2 separate regions of the Homo sapiens genome follow, and region 2 is linked to region 1. Evidence: fine-mapped expression QTL. Tissue or cell type: whole blood. Region 1 holds a variant in brackets; the other region holds the start of a gene. All regions are shown on one strand. Distances are from middle to middle.

Region 1 (8,268 bases):
TTAAAACCTCCACATCTTCTTGGGGGACCCTTAAGAGATGGTGACTTTTCTGTCGCCATCTTTCACATCTGTCACTTGCATCTATTAACCTCTTTCCTGGGGCTGAGACTAGAGTGAAACAAATGAGAACTCATGGGGAACAATAAATTTAAGGGGACATAAAGTAGCTCAGCAGTCAAGATAAATTATATTTTAAATGAAGTGGGTTTTTAAATATATATATATTGTGTCTTTTTTTGGTCAGTTTTTTAGTGTTTTTAATTTTTTTTTTTATTTTTGAAGCAGAGCCTCACTTTGTTGCTCAGGCTGGAATGGAGTGGTACAATCATGGCTCACTGCAGCCTCCATCTCCCAGACTCAAGGGATCCTCCAGAGCCTCAGAGTCCAGATTAGCTGGGACTACAGGCATACATATGCCTGGCTAATTTATATATGTTTTTTGTATAGATGGGGTCTCTCTGTATTGCCCAGGCCTCAATCAGTTCACCCACCTTGGCTTCACAAAGTGTTGGAATGACAGTCATGAGCCACTGCACCCAGCTGTGAAATGTTTTTAAATGTAAAAGTCAATGGGAAAAAATCCATGATGAACAAAATATTAACGTCATAAAGAAAGGCAGGATCTGCCCTCACGCTTGCACGGTGGAGCCTCTCTCATCTCATCCCGTCTTTGCCTGCCCCAACATTGGCTTAATGGGGACTGAGCAAACCAAGGCCCACCCCGCCCCCTGTAGCTGGGACCCTTACCTCTTGTTACCCTTGACTATAGTTTCTTTAACTTCAGAACACAACCAAAGATGCTTTGTTGGATTTTGGAATTCAGAAGGCTTGTTTAACACTAGGTTTGAACCTTATTAATTTCCTACTTCAGTGATTCTCTGCCAAGTCTTTTATACTCCTCTCAAGCTCTGTGTTTGATTAGAATACTTTCATTCCTTGAACTCAGACACTTCTTGGAGGGGGATCTTGCTGATTAGTTTGATGTCATGTGGCCCTGTCAACATTCCTTCATCTTTGCTGTTTTTTTTTTTTTTTTTTTTTTTTTAAATACCAAATGAAGGTGCACTTAGGTACGGAACTCTCTCTCTGGGTGGTGCTCCTTCCCTGGTCTCCTGTAGGGTTGGACCGGAACGCTCTCGGTGTTCACTTCTAGGGTCAGAACACATCTGGAGCAGGATTATGAAGCAGCATTTCCCCTGCAATCTGTCAAACTCGCCAACAACTAGAGAAATCACCCTGATTCCTGAGAGAGATTACCAGGAAGCCTTTTTCAGGGGCAGACGGGGTTATTTTGCCAGTGTAGCAGAAAAAAGGTAAATAACAGGTGTAAACCAAAAATAAAATTCTAAGCCTCCAGAATGACTAAATGGATCTCCCTCTTGGCCGAGGCATTCCAAAGTAAACCTGAAAAACTAGTTCAAGCTGTGATGGGAAGAGGGGCTTGTTGGATAGACCTCCTTATGCCCTCCTCCCTTTGGAATTCAGGCTCAACTGACCAGGGTTAACATTAAAACAGAGATCTTAGGACTGACAAAGCAGACTCTTTGTAGTGGGAAGACACCAAATTCCAACCTGACTCTAGTATAGCATCATAGGACAGATGGCAGGCCCTGAAAGACACTGAAGTATTTTACTCCAAAATAGATTTCTTTGACATCTTTTTAAATGGCCCTGAAAAACTGTCTTTTGTGAGGAAATCTACATTCTGTAGAGAATCCTCTTCCCTTTCTAGGTCTTTACCTCATCTGGGAGATATTTAACTAAGGGTTCGGCAAGTTTTTAGGTCTGATAAAAGACATTTGTTCTCTATTCTCTCTACAGCCTAGAGGCTTCATTTGCATAATGAAATCCCTGGTCTTCACAACCCCTTATCTTAACCTAGAAGACTTTCCTTTCTGTTGATTCCAGGTCTTTGGATAATAACTTAACGCTTTCAACTGATTGGCAATCAGAACATTTTTGAATCCACTATGACCTGGAAGCCATACCCACTCTCCCAGCCTGTCCCCCACAACTGCTTCCAGACCCAACCAATGTACACCTTACATGTATTAATTGATGTCTGCCTACAACTTCTGTCTCTCTAAAAGATATAAAATTAAGCTGTAACCCAACCACCTTGGGCACATGTTCTCAGGACCTCTTGGGGCTGTGTCACGGGCCTTGGTCACTCATATCTGACTCAGAATAAAGCTTCTGAAATATGTCACAGAGTTTAACTCTTTCCATTGACACAGGTGAGTTTGTGTTGCCCACTGCTTGTTATGTGTTACAGTAAGAACGAGATGATCCATTTGCAGAGCTTTGCCTTTTCTGTGGCCAGGTGGGCAGCTGAAGAGACTTGACATGTAGGCCAGTCATTCCATCTGTTCCCAACTCTTTCAGCCTCCTTCTGGGATCCTGTTTTTCCTGCCATCACCCAGCTGAACCCAGACTTTATTCTTTTATAACACACCCCCAGCACACAAATTTATGCACCTACACCAAATTCACTTGCCAGCCACCTCGTTCAATAGCTGTGAATATTTCTGTAGCCTCTTTCTTTTGTGAACTGCAAATAATGACCAGCCTAGTCTCTATGGTTATATTTAGGGGGAAAAGATTCTCTGTAGTAGATTTCTTTTATTAATTAATGTTCTATTTTTTCCATTCACTGATACCCTACATTTTATAGCTTCTAGGAAAATTATACTTGGTACAGTACTTTGACCCTAAATGTGTCCATGTGCAGGAAATAGTACAGTAATTGACACCCAGTTAGTGTTTAGTTAATCGTAGTTCTAAATTATGTGTCTAATGAAGAAAATTTGGAAATCACTTTGCTTAAGAATAAGGAAGTTTTGCAGGGCAAATGTATTAGTCTGTTCTCACGCTACTAATAAAGACATACTGGAGACTGTGTAATTTATAAAAAAAGAGGTTTAATGAACTCATGGTTCCTTATGGCTGGGGAGGCCTCACAATCATGGCGGAAGATGAAGGAAGAGCAAAGGGACTTCTTACATGGCAGCAGGCAACAGAGCTTGTGCAGGAGAACTCTTGTTTATAAAACCATCAGATCTCGTGAGACTTCACTCCCTATCATGAGAACAGCATGAGGGTAACCACACCCATGATTAAATTACCTCCCACTGGGTCCCTGCCACGACAAGTGGGGATTATGGGAACTACAATTCAAGATGAGATTTGGGTGAGGACACAGCCAAACCATATTAGCAAACATTTGAGCAAATGTGCTATCAACATTAAGAAGACCAACATCTAGGAGGCAGCACAGAGCTAATGCAAGAGCATTACACTTGGAGTCAGGATTGCTAAGAGCTCCTTGCAGATCTGCTACTGGGTGACTTGCAGATCTGCTACTGGGTAACTTCTCTGGGCCTCAGTTTCCTCATGTGTAAAACCAAGAGGACTGGCAGAAACACTAGCGGAGAGCCCTTCCGGCTCTAAGTCTGTGACACTTTGATGGCTCTTGTTCCTGGATGAAGGGACACCACTGGGAGAAATT[T/G]CTTCCTCCATAAGTCAACAAATTGGAATTAAAGTGCCTATGATTCCCTCCGTGAAGTTCGGTGCTGCCAACGATCACGATTCTCATGAACTCAATAAATTGTGCAATATTCTGGAAACAGCTGCCTCTCAGGGGTGGTGTTTAAGTCATCCAACTGGGAAAACAGAGGACACAAAATAATCGTAAAATGGTTTCAGGGAGACATAAGACTGACAGAAATAGAATCCCTGCTCTTTCTGGAATCGAACACTGCTGTTGCACCACAATTTCTGTGAGTTGGACCTAAAAGGAATGTCTTTACTTTTCAGGACTTGCTTTTTGTTCCTTAAAGAGCCAGGGAAATATGAAAGCAATCGATTTCTTCAGAATTCCAAAAGAAAGATATTGCTGTTTGCAAGACAAAGAAAAAAATTAAATGGAGATGGCAGCCTGTGTGTGCTGTTCCCTTCAGCAACGAGCAAACTGTGACCCAATTTGCAAGCCCTTGCAGGTTTGCAGGGTAGACCCTGGCGCTATCTCTTCCCATTAGTTTCTCTGGCAGTAGGACTGGCTGGGAGAAATTGGCTCAGTAGTACATCAGTAGTTATATTACACAGCAGCTGTGGAAAATTATTAAACTAACAGAGAGACAAATGGCTTGGGAGAGAATAAAGTTAGCAAGTCTGGAAACCCCCATTACAGTACATTATGTTGAGTTCCTTCTCCCTCTAGATTAAGACCCTGGTTCCTAAATGAGAATCCAAATTACAGCTAAACTTACTTTACTTACCTGTCTTCTTTTAAATTTGTTTCTCATTTTTCTTTGGCCAGTTAGAGATCATAGAACACTGTCCCATCTTATGCCATTTCTTTCCTCTTTGGTCTTGGACCATCTCTTCCTCTGTGCTGTCACTGGAGATATACAATTACACACGTTCAATCTCATGTGTTCCTCATACACACACACACTCATGTGGATACCCTGATATTCACTCTGCACACACATGCTCACATGCAAACACACCCTGTCTCACACACACTCATGGATGTGCACACACACTTTTGCACAATTTTTTTTTTTGAGATGGAGTCTTGCTCTGTTGCCCAGGCTGGAGTGCAGTGGCAGGATCTCGGCTCACTGCAACCTCCACCTCTCAGGTTCAAGTGATTCTCCTGTCTGAGCCTCCCTAGTAGCTGGGATTATAGGCTCGAGCCACCACGCCCAACTAATTTTTGTATTTTTAGTAGAGACAGGGTTTCACCATGTTGGCCAGGCTGGTCTTGAACTCCTGACCTCAAGTGATCCGCCTACCTCGGCCTCCCAAAATGCTGGGATTATAGGCATGAGCCACTGTGCCCGGTACATTTGCACACATTTTTGAGACTCCAGTGTCTGGGCTCTGGTTGAAAGGCCACTCTGAATTTTTTTCCACTCTCTGTGGTAGTTGGAACTATGTCTACTCCCAAGAGTTCAGACCACTCTGTTGAGAGTTCAGCATGTTTGTAAATGTAATTGGTTTATTAAACGGTATGAATTTAGTGAGAAACACACAAGAAGTATTTATTTTTCCTCCAAATGCAACCTTACAATATGTTCTGTTGAATCTGCATTTCATTTCTCTTAATGATAGGTCCCACAGCTTCTCGGTTATAATGCGGTTGGGGACCAGGCGCGGTGGCTCATGCCTGTAGTCCCAGCCACTCAAGAGGCTGAGGTAGGAGGATTGCTTGAGCCCAGGAGTTTGAGGCTGCAGTGAGCTATGATTGCACCACTGCACTCCAGCCTGGGTGACAGAGGGAGCCTGTCTCAAAAAAATAAAATAAAATGCAGTCGGGTCCAGATCAAAACTTAAATTTCTGGTCAGATTAGTGCTCATGTCCTTCTCCAAGAGCTGCCAGGCACGGAGAGTCTTGTCTAGAGGAGAGAGGAGTGGTTGGCTTTTTTATTTCTTTCACCTTCTGCTTATAGCCGCTGTGTAGTTGACATGAAACAAAGTGATTAGAGAAAAGGGACAAATGCTTTTATTTAGCTGCTGTTGTTGGAGCTCTCTCGGCTGTTTTTTTTTTTTAGATGGAGTCTCACTTTGTCGCCCAGGCTGTAGTGCAGTGGGGCAATCTCGGTTCACTGCAACCTCCACCTCCCGGGTTCAAGCAATTCTCCTGCCTTAGCCTCCCAAGTAGCTGGGACTACAGACACCTGCCACCATGCCCGGCTAATTATTGTATTTTTAGTAGAGACGGGGATTCGCCATGTTGACCAGGCTGGTCTTGAACTCCTGACCTCAAGTGTTCCGCTCACCTAGGCCTCTCAAAGTGCTGGGATTACAGGCTTCAGCCACTGCTCCCGGCCTTTCCTGGCTGTTGATGTCTGTAGATGGAGGCATCAGAAACCTGACTCTCCAGGTGGGTCACAGGTGGGTGCTTTGGAGGGTGATGTGCTTGCCTCCCCATGTATAGTTTGCTGATGTGGGGAGCTCATCTGGCTTGATGTTTCTGGCTGCACCACTCAGCCCCCATGCCCCCTGGCATGCTCACAGCAAGTGTGGCTTAGGTATTGTCCTGGGAAGCCTGGTCAGAGCTTTCCCCATTCTACAATGTCCAGGGCAGCTCTCACCTCCTGGCCATGCCATGGGGTGGGGTGTAGACCTTGTTACTGCTGCCCTCTGTTCTTCATGAAGAGCAGAGGAGCAGGTCTGCTGTAACAGAGGCTGTCCACCTGAAGACTGCCTGCCAGTGAGTCTTGCCTTCACCCCTATTCTTCACAAATGATCCTTTGGAGCCCCCCTGTATGTGGCTTTTGGGAGGGCATACCCATGTCAGGCAGAATTGTAATCCAGCCCCAAGATGCCTGCCCCTGATGTGGACACCTTGCACAATCCCCAAGATTACAATTATGATGGACTCAGCTCCTGCAATAGGTCCCTGACATATGGCACTGTCGACTTTAATAAAGGGATATTATTGGTCGGGGGTGGTGACTCATGCCTGTAATCCCAGAACTTTAGAAGGCTGAGGTGAGTGGATCACAATGTCAAGAGATCAAGACCATCCTGGCCAACAAGGTGAAACACCATCTCTACTAAAAATACAAAAATTAGCTGGGCATGGTGGCACGCACCTGTAGTCCTACCTATTCGGGAGACTGAGGCAGGAGAATCGCTTGAACTTGGGAGGTGGAGATTGCAGTGAGCCGAGATCACCCCACTGCACTCCAGCCTGGTGAAACAGTGAGACTCCGTCTCAAAAAAAAAAAAAAAAGAAAAAGAAAAAAAAAAGAAAGAAAGAAAGAAAGAAAGAAAGAAAGAAAGAAAGAAAGAAAGAAAGAAAGAAAGAAAGAAAGGGATATTACGGAGGGTGGGTCTGACCTAATCAGGAAAGTGCTAAAAAGGGGCTGGGCTCTTCCTGGAAAGGGATTTGAAGCATGAGAATCATTTAACTTGGGAGCTTTGCTGGCTTTGAAGATGGAGGGGTCATGTGGTGAGGAATGTGGGTGCCCTCTAAGAGCAGCCCCTGACTGACAGTCAGCAAGGAAGTGGAAACCTCAGTCCTATAGCTACAAGGAACTGAGTTCTGCCAATAACCACAAGAAGCTGGAAGAGGACTTGGAACATCAGGTGTGAACCCAGCCAGCCAACAGCTTGGTTCCAGCCTTGTGGCACCCTGAACGAGAACCCAGCTACATGGTGCCTGGACTTCTTAGCTACCGAGCCGTGAGCTGGTGAATTCATGTTGTTTTAAGCCACTAAGTTGGTGCCAATTGTTAGAAAGCAATAGAAACTGAAGAGTACATTGCCCCTTCACCTGCTAGTGGGGAAGAGAGAGAAAAGGCCCCAGCACCTTTCATCTAAGTCAACAACTCCCAATTCCAACTAGTTTTTTGCAAATATGATCTGGGGGCAAATGGTGGATTGATTGTAGCAGGGTCAAATAGCCTTGGAGAAGTGTCTGGCTTCCATCCAAGTCAATTATCTTTAGGGGCCGTTAGTATTACTGTTTTCAACCTTGGGTTTTTGGCCACAATTCCCAGACAACAGAAAAAGTCCTGTTCAACATCCTGCTACCCATGAGAAAAGCAGTGGTCCCAATACCTTTATTCTTTTATAATCACGATGTTGAACAAGTATGGCTTCAGGGTGTAATTATTAAGTCATTTTATTTTTGTCTCCTATAGCTCCTTTGTGCTGTGGAGCTAATTAGTCTCTTGCTCCTGGATCACCATGACTTTTATGGTCACCTTCAGGGAATGAGAAGTCTTCTAATCAGTAATTAATGTCTCATTCAGAGACATCACCAAAACTTGCCACTTCATTCAAGGTTACAGCTATACCCTTTTCCCTACCATTGTAGGTGCTGAGAGGGAGGGGAGTGGTTGACTTTGATTTTCTCCAACTTGAGCTTTGATTTGCCAGCCACATCCCCCGACACTCTGGTTTTCTATCTCTGTGAGATTAGAGGAGAGGAGAGAGGACAAGGAAGGGAATGCCCCAGGCTTGTCTTTACCGAAGGTAAAACATCACCCACATAGGGTATCTCTAGAGAACCCATGAGAGCCCTCATCAGTCACTGTAAACCGTCAGAGCCCAGAGAGTGAGAGGCCAGCCTAGGACAGATTCAGTCACGTGGAGCTTTCCTTCTCCTTCCTTCCTTGTCCATTTTTCATTTATTTGGCCCCGTCTGCTGGAGTGTCTCCGTGCTCCTGCCCTAAATGTTCCTAATTTCTGTCTCCTCTTCTTCCTCTGAGGGATGCCTCGGGGTAGGTGTTTCTCAACATTCTGACTTTT
Region 2 (6,280 bases), 41 kb after region 1:
CTGAAAGCAACAGTGAACATTACTTCATTTATGGTGTAATAAAACCAACTTCAAAGTCCATTTAGGCCCAGATGACTCTTGGTCTCATGCTTGACACTTCTGTTACCTATTTGAGGCTTACTGTTCAAAATATTCATAGACTGTACTTAAGGTACCATGTGTTCCTTCTGGTAAATCAAAAGTAGTTTTTATGTTATATTTAGGGGCAGATTTCATCTACTAGCATAAAACATTATGATAAACTCTCCCCACCCCCTAACAAAGGCATTTCATTCCACATGTCGTGAGCAACTGCTTGCAGAGAACATGCACCATGTGAAAAAGTAATTATTGCCTTGCCTAAGGAATGAAGCTGACTCTATCAGCATGTCCAGGCTTTTGCAGATAAGTGAGCAAAACCATGGCTTACTAAGAACACTGCAATTTTTTTTTAACCTTTTGAAAATTCATTCTTTTCTAATGATTAGTTATGGGGAAAAGTGAGTTAAGTACTGCTTGACAGTTTGCTCTATAGAAGCTCTGTAATATCACCTCTCCTAGTCTTCTTTGATATAGAACCAACCATCTGTATCGATGACTTCTTTCCCTCTTTAATAAGTTGTAAATTGAACAGCATAATTCTTCCCATGTCCAAGACTAGTCAGCCAAAATACTGTGTTCGGAATTTGGCTGGCTGTATGTTATAACTTGTCTGTCATCACTTTCTTTCATTACAGCCCTGTGGTTGGTTTTTGTAGACTTTAAGGATCCGTTCGCTAGTGATTCATTTCATTTGGGTATATGCTACATGTTATTCTGTGCTTGTGTTAGACCAAAATGTCACATTCCACAAGTGTGTCCAGATGATCACTAAGCATTGGAAAGGAGTCAGTTTTGGAGTTGGCCGAGCTTCCTTCTATAAGACTTGTCTTTCAACAATTGATAAGGTTGATCAAATCTTTCAGCTTCGATCTGTTGTGTCCTTATTTCATAGAAATGGCCCATTTTTGAGTCTTAGAGTTTACTCTCTTTTTACTTGTGAATATATCTGAAATGAACACTTACTAAGACATAAATTCCAGTGAAAGAAGGGTCTTTCCTTTTGATTATCCTCTTTTAGAACTCTCCAGAAAAGGAATGGACAATCTTTTAAAGAGAGGCCTCTTTGTTAGTGGAAGTATTTATCAAGAGAATGGATTTCCACGTTAATCAGAGATTGCAATAGGAACTTCCTAAAACTCCTTCTGAAGTTAAGATTTCTTGAAACTCTTCTCAAACACTTGGTTTAATGTAGGGGGCGGCTAGAGGAAGTTGAATAAATATAAAGAGCAAGTTTTTGTTTTGTGATCATTATTTTTAGTTTTACTTGAAAAAGTAAAGGTGTTCTTCATTGGTTTTTGTTGAAAGAGTCCTACAGGATAAGGCTTTTGTTTTGGAACAAGAGAAGAGCGGTTGAGCTTGTTTGGTGTGTGGGAAACAATTTTAAAGTGTGACAGATATTTCTGTAGCAGATTCTTCTGCAGCAACAGCCAGAGACTGGTTTATTGTTTCAGTAGGGAAGTAGGTATCTAAGTCAAAGGTAAGATGGGGCAGATATGCAGATTGTCTCCTCATCTATTTACGAGGTAACCTTTTTCTAAAGCCAGAAAAAAACAGCTAATCGTTGCATCTTCTGGTTGAGGTGGTAAACAACTCAGTTATCAACCGGCAGAGCATAGCTGTTGGTTTATAATTCAAGTCAACCGTGCAGGAAGGAGGGAAGTAGAGGAGATGCAGTTTCATTTCCCATTAACTCCCCTGACCTGAATTAAGGTGGGAACTGAGGAGAACATCTGTAAAAATAACAGCATGCAAACTGTACAAGGACAGGGCCATGCCCAGTTAACCCGCTGTTTGAGGTCTAAATACTTTTTGGTTATTGTGCAATATGAGTAAAACATCCTCAGAGATGAATCATAGCTCTAGAATTTTAGATTATCACTGCATATGACAATATAAAAAAATCCATGCTCCATTACACCAATTTAATAAAGCAATGTGGCATCTACCTGCCTGAACACCAAAGACACGCAACCTTATGAAAAGAAAAAAAAAATCCAAATATTCATTCTTAGAGAATCACGATTTCATTGACTGGATCAGTGTCGGCTGCCTTCAGTATAAAAACAGGACAACTTTGAATATATCAGAGACTCTCCAAATATCATCATGGAGATTTACTAGGAGCCTTCATAAATATAGTGAGTAATAAAGCAATTTCTAGGGACTATATAGTAATCTTGAATTCTGTGATTCATATAAATGTGAATTATTAATAGAAAATAATCAAAATGATTTAATAAAAGTACATGTGTTCACATAGAAAGGGGGAAGAGAGGCCGGGAGTGGTGGCTCACGCCTGTAACCCCAGCACTTTGGGAAGCTGAGGCGGGTGGATCACGAGGTCAGGAGTTTGAGACCAGCCTGGCCAACATAGTGAAACCATGTCTCTACTAAAAATACAAAAATTAGCTGGGTGTGGTGGCCTGTGTCTGTAGTCCCAGCTACTAGGGAGGCTGAGGTGGGAGAACCCCTTGAACCTGGGAGGTGGAGGTTGCAGCAAGCCGAGACCATGCCATTATACTCCATCCTGGGAGACAGAGTGAGACTCCGTCTCAAAAAACAAAAGGGGGTGGGGGGTGGGGAAGACAGCACTGCTTAGATATTAGAAAAAATCTGAGATTTCATTGCTTTTTCTATAAGTTATAAGGTGATACCATGGAACTGTGGGCAAGTCCCTCAACAATCTAAGCTTCCATTTCTTGATCTCCAAAACAGTGGCACCGAGGTTTGCCTTGCTTACTGCCTTGAGAAGTTCAGGAGAGACAGTGCTTGTGAAAGTGTGAGTCAATTACTATTTGTTTTCTTGCATGTGGCTTGTAAGGAAGTCAGATAACATAAGAGAAGTGAGTGACTGAGTGTTAAAGTGAATTACCAAGGATGCTGGAACTTGAAATGCTTTTGTGTGTAGCAATGCAGGCCGAGCTGCCACGTGCTATCCTGTGTGTCCCCGCTCTCCCCGCGTTGCAAGCCCGCAGAATGCCCCGCATCCACTGAGCCGTGGCCAGCCCTACGGTGGGCAAGCCTATCAAGCGCAAACATTGGGAGGGTTCTGACTCTCAAGTGTCTTACAGAAAATAGAGCCAGGAGCTCCATCTGGCACTCCATTTGCTAAATGTCCCATTGATGTCAAACGCCAGGAAATGTGGCTGTTTAAAATCCCAGGGAATAAGATTTCCACTCAGCAGCTTTCTAATGTACGCGCAGCACTCTGCGAAGCAAAAGCCCTTGCTGAGCAGTCTGGTCACAGCCCCTTACACACAAGCTCTCTGGGCCTCCACTAAGAAGTACAAAGACACAGGGCAGAGGAAAATGGACTTATCAGCTCCAGTGGCTTAAAATATGCCGGATGCCAATAGAGGGCACTGTTGCATATCCACAAAAGCCCACGCTCCGCAACCTAGCAAGACCACCAAAGCACTCACCTCCTTCCACACTCTGGCTGCAGTCCTAATGATGAACAGGAGCGATTAAAGTGGCAATCCCACAAAACACGGCTTCTGGTCAAAGTTCATGACTGCTTCATCACCACTTTGATATTTGCAAAGGGGCTTCATGATCATTTTCAGTCCTGAGTCATCTCCAGTACTTTTCTGCAGAATGCTAGATCTCTTAGCTTCACTTTTCAGAAGACTGAAATCCAGAGAGGTTAACTAGATGACTTGAGCCCATTCAGTCCAGAACTAGACAGAGATAGAAAACTCAGGGTTCCTGAATTCTACGCTGGAGAGTTTTCAGAACGGTGCATTGCGAGCTTTGAATGAAAAACATCAACAGCCTGCATCCGCTCTTGACTCTTTAGGGGAGGTTGTATGGCTTGGTGATTAACTGGGACTTCACAGGCAGGACTCCTGTCCCCACCACCTCCTAATTGTCGTTTATCCCAGTGGAAGTTGATAACTGATAACCAAACCTGCAAGTGAGGCCCATTCTGCAGCCCAAGAAGGAGTTAGGGAGGGATAGGAAACAGACACATAAAATCAGGCCAAATAGTGAAACTGATTGGAGTGCTTTGGGGTATCAATGTTGTATCCTAATTGTCCTTTATCACAGTGGAAGTTGATAACTGGTAACCAAACCTGCAAATGAGGCCCATTCTGCAGCCCAAGAAGGAGTTAGGGAGGAATGGAAAACAGACACATAAAATCAGGCCAAATAGTGAAACTGATTGGAGCGCTTTGGGGTATCAATGTTGTATCCTTCAGCGATCCCTCTCAACTATTAGTTAACTGAGAACAGATTGCCCCGAACTTGGGAGCTGTCAGATCTGTTTCTTGCACTCTCCCACCATTGACCCCTGACTCCTACAGAATCTCATTTTGCATCCCACATTCTGAAGGCATTGAATCATTTTTTTTGGCTAAGCACATGTTGGCTCTGGAGTCGCCTATATACAGAGTCTTTGCTGCTGCATTTGAGGCCTGGTGACATGTTATATTATGTAATGTTCTGGCAGTTAAGGAAAACTCACGCCCTCCCTGTTATGTATGAAGTGTCATCTCTAAAGCAGAGACTATTTCTTGCAAAATGGCATTGATAAATGGATAAACGAAACCAACTGACAACATCCCCGTAACAATGCAGTATCCTTCACTGCCAGTTTATTTCTAGAACACCATTAGGCAAAAAAGAAGGCTTTGTGGCCTAAGTAGGTGTTTTCATATATTTCGGAATGACAAATTAAGACGACAAGGATTTTCAGTCAGGCCATGACAGTAAATGTGCGCTTGTCACTTGTTGTAATGCTGTCCGGCAGGCCATAAGGGCCAGGCTTTACTGCATGGCACATTGGGGAGCCAAATCTCTCTGGTGGCATCTTTCTGTCTGGCACCTCACTCAAGTTAGAAAACTCAACCTAGAAAAGACTGTTGGTCCCTACATGGGCAAGTGTTACTTTCGCTATTACTAAACCCTGTGCCAGTCTTGGGGCAGTCGGAAAGGGTGGAGGAAAACAGGGTGCTTTGATGGCTCTGGCCTGGTCTCAAGTGACACACCCTAATCTGAAGGGTTTGTGCCCACATCCTCTCCGCTGCAGCTGGGTGGCTGTTGGCAATCACCTTTGCAAGCACTTGTGTGTACCATGCCAGCGGTTGCTCGTGCCAATTAGAACTCAGCTGGATCTTGATATAAATGGGCCATAGGCTAATCGTTCTGGGATACATCTTAAATTAGTCTGAGAGAGTCAGAGACCACTGTAAAACCATTTGGCCCAGAGTTTGTGCAAGTTTCTCTGATCCAAAATGGCACCTTGGTATCCAGCTGTCTTGGATGCAGACAACTCTTTCACCTCGGGTCATCATCAAATGCCAAACACAAAAGAAATCCTAACCTCTCACTTTACACAAGAGGAGGCCAAGGCTCAGAGAATTGTAAAGACTTGCCACCAGGTTGTGGCAATGTGCAGTGAAGAACACAGTCTATTTCTGGCATCAGAAGGGCTCAAGTTTGGTTCTCCCAGGCACTGTTTGACAGAACCTCCCTGAGTCTTGGATTACTTTTTGTAACCTTCTGAGTTGTTGAGCAGGTGACATGCAGGAACACAGATATTTTAGTGTGCCCCCAATTGCCTGGGATACTGGTTAAATATGCAGATTTTTGGACCCCTGGCCCCCACCAGAGACTTGGATACAGTTTTTCAGGTTTGTTTTTTGTGGAACACTGTAGGGACAAATGGGAGTGTTTGCTGTGTCAGTGGCACAGCCTCTGATCCTTGTTCTATTCACTGTTCGCCTTCTAGTTTCAGCTCAGCTGTAGACAGATGCACTCCTGAGAATGTGACTGAACTTTACTAAGTAGGAATCACTGTAAACCTTATTCACCATCTACTCCACCCCCACCACTCGTCTTTTCTGGGTCACTACTTCTCCCTTGCGTCTAGTCAGCATATAGAAATAAAGATTGTGTCTACCTTTATTATACCCACTAGAAGGCCTGACATAGAAAATAAACGTGAGCCCATACCTATTATAGAGAGCAGAGGCCATTATGCCTTAACTTGCTATGTTCTGTTGCTACCATAGAACTGGACAAAGATGGAACTTTCATTCTAGTGGCTGGTCCATGGAGATATTCTGTGGTATTCAAAAAATCTTGGGGCATCTTTAGGGTCTAACACTTCCATTATTCATGCAATGTGACGCACTTGTATTTGGCATTTAAGTATACATGCATGCAAATATTTTACCTCAAACACAATGGTACT

What was found. PIP is the estimated chance that this variant, and not a neighbour inherited with it, causes the effect.
Region 2: it holds the start of IATPR, and the variant in region 1 is fine-mapped to the expression of IATPR in whole blood (INTERVAL, PIP above 0.99). The same link has a PIP of 0.9 or more in Th17 cells.

Annotation. Positions count from the first base shown.
Region 1 is chr10:33,070,585-33,078,852 of GRCh38, forward strand. The region is part of intron 2 of ITGB1-DT (ITGB1 divergent transcript); the gene reads left to right. It overlaps IATPR (ITGB1 adjacent tumor promoting lncRNA), which reads right to left. Exons shown (of 3, transcript NR_160030.1): 2 at 4,278-4,399; 3 at 3,442-3,662. Among named protein-coding and RNA genes, the nearest start is that of IATPR, 42 kb to the right of the region's middle. RefSeq lists an enhancer at 5,345-5,846. The variant T/G (reference allele first, on the strand shown) is at 3,509.
Region 2 is chr10:33,112,968-33,119,247 of GRCh38, forward strand. IATPR (ITGB1 adjacent tumor promoting lncRNA) reads right to left here and starts at 3,840. Exons shown (of 3, transcript NR_160030.1): 1 at 3,504-3,840.